Regions from separate parts of the Homo sapiens genome. Here region 1 is linked to region 2. The links come from fine-mapping of genetic effects on gene expression. A gene starts in region 2. The other region holds a variant in brackets. All regions are shown on one strand. Distances are from middle to middle.

Region 1 (4,307 bases), 51 kb before region 2:
GTTCTCGGAGCATCCCCTGCCAGCCCAGAGCTTGAGACCACAGGGGAATAGCCCCTGCCCCGGGAGCATCGAGCAGCCCAGACTGCAGCCAAACCCCGCGCCAAGCAGAGAGGGCAAGAGAATGACAAGCATGGTCCTGGGGGGCCGTGGACGCATGGTCACCGCGGGAGCAGTGGCGGAGGTGGCTGTGAGTTGGACCCTGGCAGGGAGCAAGACCCAGAGGCTGGTGGAGGAAACAGGTAGAGGAAGGGGAGTTTATTAGGGGGGTGGTGGTGCCGGGGGCGTGGCAGGCTCCGAGGCCCAGCTGGACACAAGGACCCAGATTCGTCTGGCCAGGCCTGGGCAACCCAGCCTCGACCACACTAGGTATGGGCTGCCCAGAAGAGGAGCCACTCTGCCCAGGGTGGGCTGCAGAACCTGATGGGCCAGAGTCCTGTCCTGGGATTGTTCCAGAAATCAAGGCTGTAGCTTGAGACTGGGGGCTTCCCCAGGTCTTCCACCCTGAGGGGAGAGCAGCTGGCCGTGGACACCACCCTCAGGGAGCTGAGAGGCCAGAGGTGGAGAGAGGCTGGGGGCCGGCTCTGCAGCCCCCAGGCCCCCACTGCAGCCCCCAGGCCACCCTTGGCTGCCGGCTTAGGGCCCTTGGCTTGCTCAGCCTATCTTTAGCCACCATGGCCTCGTAGGGTGCCCTGCAGCCCCTTCTTGGCCCAGGCGAGCCCTGGAGCAGTTCTTCACTTGGACAGGTGCATGGTTTACGGTGAGGGATTCAGCTTGCCAGAACCCGCATGCCCCTTGGAAGCCCCTTTTTCTGCCCCCAGCAGCTCCACTCCCACCACCGCACCCACCCCAGCAGCTAGTCTAAAGCTCTCTGTCTCCAGGGATGCTCCCAGCCCCCCTCCAGCAGATGGCCTTTCTGGAAACACCCTTAGGCTGAGCCTCTGTCCACTCCACTGGTGTAACCAACAACAGGGAGCTCCCAAGGACCCCACAAAAAGGCAGACATTGTAAGGGGGAAACTGAGGCCCAAAGTGTCCGGCAGCTTGCCCAGATCCCACGGGCAGGGAGCAGGAGCCGGGATTGGGCTCATTCCTTCAGCTGGCAACCGTCCATTTGTAGGGGCAGAGGCGGCAGGGACATAGCCTCCTGCTTGGAGCTGGGAAGCGGGGGCGGTGAGGGGGACACAGAGGAAGACTACCCAGCTCCACCCAGGCCTGCCTGTGGGGGCACTTCCTGCGGGATGCGGGGACTCTGATGAGACCCAAAGGAGGAATGAGAAATGTGGGCAGAGCTGGAGCCGGCCAGGGATGGGATGATCCCACAGGTGTGAGAGCAAGGGAGTGCCCTGTCCGCACCTCTGCTTTCTGGTGTCCCCACCATACCTTTCTGTTACGTCCCTTCTCTCCTTCTGAGAGGCTGTCCCATCCCAGCTGCACACCATTCTCATTGAAGTGAAAAGGCTGCCTCCCGACCCCAGCTGCCCAGGGCAGTCATCCACACCCTGGCTCTGGGCCATCCGCCCCTCTCGTGGTTCCTACGGTCCGTGTCCTCTGTGGCACCTCAAGTGCCCCCTGCCTGCCCCAGGGACAGCCACTCACTGGGCTCAGAGCCCCCTGACACACACACAGCAGGGGGCTTCGAGAGTCCAGGGATGCCTCCTGGAGTCACGGCTCTGCCAAGCTCCCCAAAGTTGACTTGGTGGGGGAGCTGGCATCCTGACTACATGGCCGTGTTGACAGGACCAGCGAGCAGCCTCCTGG[T/C]ATCTGCTGTTAATCCTCATGACTGCTCTCAAACCTCTCAACTCTACTGAAGACACAGACACAGTCATGCCCACAGCTCCACAGAGAGTTCCTACCTAAACACCCGTGCAACCAGCACGTGATGAAGACACAGATATCACCAAGAACGGCTTGATGCCTCCTACAGAAGTGTCCATTGCATGTTGGAAGTTCCTGAGCTGAACAGCAAGGTTGTTTGCCATCTTCATCTCCCTAGGCAAGACTGCCCTGGAAGAGCGAGTGATGTGGATGGAGACAGGGAATACTGAGGTCTGCTGACGTCAGTCGATGGCGGCCATGTGGATGGACGGCGGGCATGTGGACGGACGGTCAGACATGTGGACGGACGGGCGGGCGTGTGGACGGGCGGGCGGGCGTGTGGACGGGCAGGCGGGCGTGTGGATGGACGGCGGGAGTGTGGATGGATGGTTTTGGTGGTTGACACCAATCCTGCGTGCAAAGGCTTGATGTGGGTTTTCCCGGGGTTCCCGTGGGGAGAAAATTCCTTCACAATGAACCAAATCCCGCTCCCACTGGGTGTTCCTCCTCCTCCTCCATCTTTTTCTCCTCTTTTGGCTCCTCTTATGACATCATAAGACATATATATTTGGTCTCTGTCCCCCATTACTGACACAGAGCTCCTAATCCCTTAGACTTGCCTAGGTGATGGGAGCATCTTTTGTTCCAATGAGGCAGCTCTTGCTGGGCTCCTGGGTAGCTCCAGGATGGGGGCTGGTCGCCAGCAAGACCAAGCCACGATGAGCAGCTTGACACTTCTGGCCTCACCCGCCATGCTCTGGGGAAGGGAGGGGCTGGAGACCAAGCCTGTGTGATGAAGCCTCCATGAAAAGTCAGAACAATGGGATTTGGAGAGCGTCTGGGTTGGTGCACGCGTGGAGGCTCTCGGAGGGAGGCGCCCGGAGAGGCCGTGGGAGCTCCACCCGCATCCCCATACCTTGCCCTGAGCATCTCTGCTGGCTGAGTTGTTTCCTTTAGTAATAAGCCAGAAGTGGCCGGGTGCGGTGGCTCACGCCTTTGGGAGGCCAAGGTGGACAGATCGCTTGAGTTCAGGGGTTCAAAATCAACCTGGGCAACATGGTGAGACCCTCTCTCTACAAAAAATACAAAAATTAGCTGGGCGTGGCGGCTCATGCCTGTAGTCCGAGCTACTTGGGAGGCTGGGGTGAGAGGATCGCTTGAGCCCAAGAGGCAGAGGTTGCAGTGAACCAAGATTGCACCACTGTGCTCCAGTCTGGGTGACAGAGGCAGACCTGTCTGCAAATGTAAAATAAAAATAGATATATATAATATAAAACATTCTGCTGAGAGAGAGCATGACAGAAAAAAAATTCAGTAGTAGGAAACAAACAGTTGTTCTAGTCTCTGTGAGCTGTTCTAGCAAATGACTGAACCCGAGGAGAGAGTCATCAGACCTCCCATTTGTCACAGCCAAGGCATTCAGAAGTAGTGGGTAACCTGGGGACCCACCCCTCCATGACTGGTGTCTGAAGTCAGGGCAGTCACGGGTGACTGAGCCCTTAACCTAACCCCAGAAGTGAAGTGCCAGAGGCGTTGTGAGTTACAGTATGGAAGAAAAGCTTTCTCTCATACGCCCAGCTTCTCTGGCCTCGGGGCTCCACCTCCTTCTTCCCAGTTCAACATCCCCTGACCCTTTTCTCATTTGGGGTAATTGAGTCCCTGGGCTTGGCCAGCGTGCCCCTCGCTCAGCTGCCAGGGACCTGCCCTTGCTGGGTGGAAGAAAAGCTGGTGACAGTGTGTGCCATTGCAGCACACATCGCCGACTCCGCGCCCCCTTCCTGATTAGGAGAACACCCAGCATCAGCTGGCGCAGTGACATCAAAGACTACGTTTCCTAGCCTCCCTCGCTGCCAGATGTGGTCACAAGACTACGTTGGGCCCAGGAAAGAGGGAAGATGGAGCAGGCGAACTGGGTGGGAATTCCGGGAATTCTCCACACAGGGGACGGGCCGTGCCCTGCTCTCCTTCGCTCCTTCCTCATTCCTGGAACACAGATGTGAAGGCTGGAGATCAAGTTGCCATCTGGGACCATGAGGTAAGGCTGGGGGCTTCCCATGGCTGTGGAGGCTGTCGTGCCAGCCCTGAGAAAGAGGAAACTCTGTGGATTAGGTGGGTTAGGCATGGTCGTCTGGGTTTTCTGGGGTCACAGGCAGCCTCTCCCTGGCCTCACTAGGACACACTATGACTGTTGAAACCATGACTCATGATTCACATTGGGGGTATGCCCTGGTCAAAGGAACATGCGCTGGCAACAAGGAGTTTCAGAATGATCCAGTTCTTGGGTTGACACTTCTCAAAAGCCCCTATCTTCCCCTGCCTCTTCTGTCTCGGGGAGGCTGTCTTCAAAATTTCCCTAAAAACCCCTTCCCTGGCTGAGACCTGGGGCCTCTTGCCTTCTTACCAGAGCAGCTGTCCCCCAACAGAAACCTCAGGACACTTCCGCCTTTCCTCTTCCCACTTGGCCTGTCATCCGGTCCCCACCCCCTGCTTGCA
Region 2 (4,452 bases):
TCAAAATATCACACCAAATCTCATCTTGAATTGTAGCTCCTATAATTCCCATGTCGTGGGAGGGACCCGGCAGGAGGTAACTGAATCATGGGGCAGGCTTTCCTGTTCTGTTCTCCGGATAGTGAATACATTTCCTGAGATCTGACGGTTTTATAAAGGGGAGCTCCCTGCACACGCTCTCTTGCCTGCCGCCGTGTAAGACGTCCCTTCGCTTTTCCTTTGTCTCCTGCCATGATTGCGAGTCCATTAAACCTCTTTTTCTTTATAAATTACCCAGTCTCGGGTATGTCTTTATTAGCAGCATGAGAATAGACTAATATGCTCTGGAAGATATTATCTTACTCCAGACATTATTTTAGATCTTTGCCAATTTGACCCGTGGCAAACAGCACTCCAGCATAGCTTTAATTTCCACTGCTCTTGTTCTGATTGGGGCTGAGCATCTATTCGCCTGTATAGGAGCATTTGTATTTTCTTTGCTCTGAACTGTGTTTATATTCTACGCCCACTTTTCTTTTCTTTTTTTAAGAGATGGGGTCTCACTCTGCTGCCCAGGCTGGAGTGCAGTGGTGCAATCATAGTTCACTGCAGCCTCCAACTCCTGGGCTCAAGGGATTCTCTCACCCCAGCCTCCTGAGTAGCTGGGATTACAGGTGGGTGCCACTATTTCCAAACCACTTTTCTTTGGTGATCTAGATTTCATTTGCATTTGCAGAATATCTGTATATTAAGGAATTTAACCTTTATGTGGGATACAGCCAGGAAAAACTTTTTTCCCCATTTGTCTTTTCACTTTGACATGCATAAACTTTAAATTCTCAGGTAGTCACCTTTATCAAGTCCCATTTTCTTTTACCTGGGCAGTAACCTAATGGGATTTTCTACTTCCAGCCTTCCTGCCACCTCCTCCAAATCTATTACCAACAGTGATTCTTGGTGGTTGTGGTGCCTCATGCCTGTAATCCCAGAACTTTGGGAGGCCAAGGTAGGAGGATCACTTAAGGCCAGGAGTTGGAGACCAGCCTGTGTAACAAGACAATACCCTGTCTCTACAAAATTACCAAAAAAAAAAAAAAAGTTAGCTTGGTGTAGTGGCACACTTCTGTAGTCCCAGCTACTTGGGAGGCTGAGGCGTGAGAATCACTCGAGCACAAGAGTTCGAGGATACAGTGAGCCATAATCACGCCACTGTTGTCCAGCCTGGGCGAAAGAGACCCCCTTTTTTTTTTTTTTAAATAAGAACAGTGATTCTTTTCAAGCACAATTCAGATTCCAGTTCCTTCTCTGCTGACCATGCCAGTAGTCTCCATCCCACTCCCAGAATAGCCCAAAAGTCCCTCCACCCCTCACACTTAAAACTTTCCCACGAGATCACAGGGTTCTTTCTCACTGCACTGAGACGTGCTCCTGCCTCCTGCCCCTGCCTCGGGCTTTGCCCCAGCCATTCCTCTCCTGAATTCTCGTCCACTCTTCCTTTTGGTGCTTTAAGACGCTCCTTATCCTAGAGACCTATGTGAGCAGCGCCCCCACGTCACTCCCAGGTTTCCCGACAGCATTTCAGCATTTACCACCGACCTTGGCGCATCCGCACCTGCGGATTGATCTGAGGATTCCCCCCCAACTTCCAGCACTTGGCTCTCAGCTGCAGCCACGCCTGCCGGGCCTGCTGCAGGCGCTCAGGGTATTACTTAAGTCAATGATTGCAGGTTCTCGCATCCTATTTAAAACCTTTTCCACTAAGAGATTTAAAACACGTGTCCCCTGCTTTGAACTTTCACGTTACATTTCTTACGTGTAAACCTAGGAAGCCTTTGGAGATAACCCCGGTCTCTGGAGAGGCTTGGATAGACCTCGGAGCCCAGACCGCCCGGGAATTGCCGTGCCCGGCTCCTCCCGACCCCGGCACGGATGCCTCGGCGGAGAAGTTGAGCCAGGCAGAAGCGAGAGAGTCCAAACCTCTGTTTGCCCCGCCACGCCCGCCCGAGGGCCCCACGTGGGCCCCAGGCGCAGGCGCGTTCAGTTCAGGGCCAGACGCGCGGAGACCTGGGAGCTGGCGGGGCGGGGCCGGACTGGGCGCGGGGAGACCTGGGAGCCGGCGGGGCGTGGGCGTGGCGGGGCCGGGCGCAGGGGCGGGGGCGGGGCAACCGAGGGCGCGCGCGAGCCCCAACGGCCGTCGCCGCAGCGCGGGAAGACGCGCCACAGATGCCCCGCCCGCGTGGGTTTGAACAAGAGGCCCCGCCCCCGGCCCGCGAGTGGCCAATCAGCGGGCGTAGCGCGCGGAGAGCGCAGCGTCGACCCTTTGTGGACGCCGAGTGGCGGTCGCTCGCCCCGCCCCGCGCCGTCGGGCGCTCCTTCCTCAGCGGCGGGAAGCTGGCGGCAGCGGCGGTGGCGGTGGCTGAGCAGAGGACCCGGCGGGCGGCCTCGCGGGTCAGGTGAGCGGGCCCGGCGGACCGCTAGGGCGTCTACGGCGGCGTGCACTTTTGTGCTGCAGGGCGCGGAGGAGCCTGGGGGCGGTGCGCGGAGTCTGTGGCTCCTGGCGCTGGGTCCGGGGCGGAGGCGGCGCCCGGGACCACCGCTGGGGCTGCCGCGGCGCCCTCGCCGCCCTCCTGGGCGCTGGTTCCCCCGCGGGGTGGCCGCTGCTGAGGGGGCCCGGGGAACAGAGGGGCCCGGGCCGCCGTCTGCGTTCCTTGCGGAGCGCGGAGCTGGGGCTTTGCCGAGGCCTGCGGGCGGCCCCACGCGGGAGCCGCTTCACGAGGGCCCGGCTGGGGTACGCAGCGGCGTTTCCCGTACCTCGGCTCTAGTTGCAGCGGAGGGAACGCCAGGCGCGCCGCAGCCCCCTCTGTCGGAGCCCGGCCGCGGAGAGGGCCGCGGATGTGGGAGGAGGCCCAGACCCCGGGCGGGTCGGCCAGCGCCGTCTTCCCTGGGCTCCTCCGGCGGTGCGAGGTGGGACTAGGGAAAGTCCCCGAGACACTTGCAGAAGTCAGACGCAAGCCTCCCTCCGCGTCTTCAGACGCTTCTCGCCCCGCAAACAGGATCGTCGTGGCAAAGGCTCCGACAGCTTGCTGGAATAGAGGGTCTCCGCTGCCTCGCTTCTCCTGTGGCCTTCGTGTGGGACGCACGGGACGGCGGGACCCAGATAACCGTTCTCTCAAAGCGAGCCACAGAAAAACATTGCCTGTTCACAAAACTTACGTTTTATCAACTTTCTACGTACAACCACTCTATTTTCAAGTGTCACCGTGTTTTATAATTAGGGTGGAAATCCAGAATACAAAGTGAGTTACACCCCTTTTCTAGGAAGAGTAGTAGGCTGTATCTTGGAAAAGGGGCTAGGAAGTTTCCCTCAACTTGCCACTGGAACATGTTTTCAGGGAAAAGAAGGAGTGTGTTTCGTTCCAAGTAACAAAAGTACCTGCAATTGGCTGGGCGCGGTAGCTCACACCTCCCAGCACTTTGAGAGGAGGCCTAGGCGGGTGGATCTCCTGAGGTCCCGAGTTCGAGACTAGCTGGCCAACGTGGTGAAACCCCGTCTGTACTAAAAATACAAAAATTAGCTGGGCGTGATGGCGCATGCCTGTAATCATAATCCTAGCTATGTGGGAGGCTGAGGCAGGAGAATCGCTTGAACCAGAAAGGCAGAGGTCTCAGCCGAGATCGTGCCATTGCACTCCAGCCTGGGCGACAGAGCGAGACTCCGTCTCAAAAAACAAAAAAAACCAAATACCTGAAATTAACATAACAGTAATTGTTCATGAACAGCCTCCAGGAGACTTGTAGTGGAAGGTGGAGCTCCCACTCAGTACTCAAGACTGCAGACCTTGCTCCTCTTCTCCCTGTTTTTCCGATAAAGTATTTCAAAGCTTATCTGATGTGTGAGGAATGGAAATTGTTGATGATTTGCTTAAAAACCCGAAACTTTGAAGTGGCTGCAAGTCCAGCTGTGAAGGTGACAGGTTAGGTCAGAGTTGAGTCTGTCCCCAACCGTCCCAGCCCTACTGATCAGAATCTGGGAATCTGCGTTTTCAGCCAGCCTCGTGGTATTGCTCAGCCACGAAGGTGTGGCCACTGCTGCTGTAGTGAAGGACCAGTCCCCGAGCTGTACTCTGCTTGCCTGAGCAGCACTGCGGGGCTGCTCCCTGCTGGCCTCTGCCTCGGTGGGCCTAGGTTGCTCTGTCCCTAGTGGCCTGTTGGCTGTTCCACCTGCCATGTCGGACATGTCCTCAGTCCGTCTGGCCCTCTTCGTTTTTCTCTGTCTGGTCGGTGCTTGGTTTAGAAGCCTGAGGGCAGTGCTGGGAGTTGACTGAGGGCTTGGCTGTCCCGGTAACAACCTGTGGAGTTGGTGGGATTTTAGGCATTTAACTAGATGTGTAGAAAGAGCTTCAAAACTGAGCAGGGGGCCAGGCATGGTGGCTCACGCCTGTAATCCAGCACTTTGGGAGGCCGAGATGGGCG

Direction of the effects. Alleles are on the strand shown, and positions count from the first base shown. SD is a standard deviation of normalised expression in the study named.
In carriers of allele T in region 1, the expression in thyroid of the gene that starts at base 2,348 in region 2 tends to be lower than with C alone (small effect, 0.33 SD a copy in GTEx).

What was found. PIP is the estimated chance that this variant, and not a neighbour inherited with it, causes the effect.
Region 1: its variant is the best candidate, but not a certain one, in a credible set for the expression of CDCA4 in thyroid (GTEx, PIP 0.63).

The regions. Positions count from the first base shown.
Region 1 is chr14:105,069,957-105,074,263 of GRCh38, reverse strand. No RefSeq gene overlaps it. Among named protein-coding and RNA genes, the nearest start is that of GPR132, 6.7 kb to the right of the region's middle. RefSeq lists enhancers at 3,968-4,247, 3,307-4,307. The variant T/C (reference allele first, on the strand shown) is at 1,758.
Region 2 is chr14:105,018,979-105,023,430 of GRCh38, reverse strand. CDCA4 (cell division cycle associated 4) reads left to right here and starts at 2,348. Exons shown (of 2, transcript NM_017955.4): 1 at 2,348-2,432. RefSeq lists enhancers at 1,553-1,612, 1,628-2,141, 2,656-3,171, 3,623-4,283 and silencers at 1,913-1,982, 2,013-2,902, 2,913-3,002.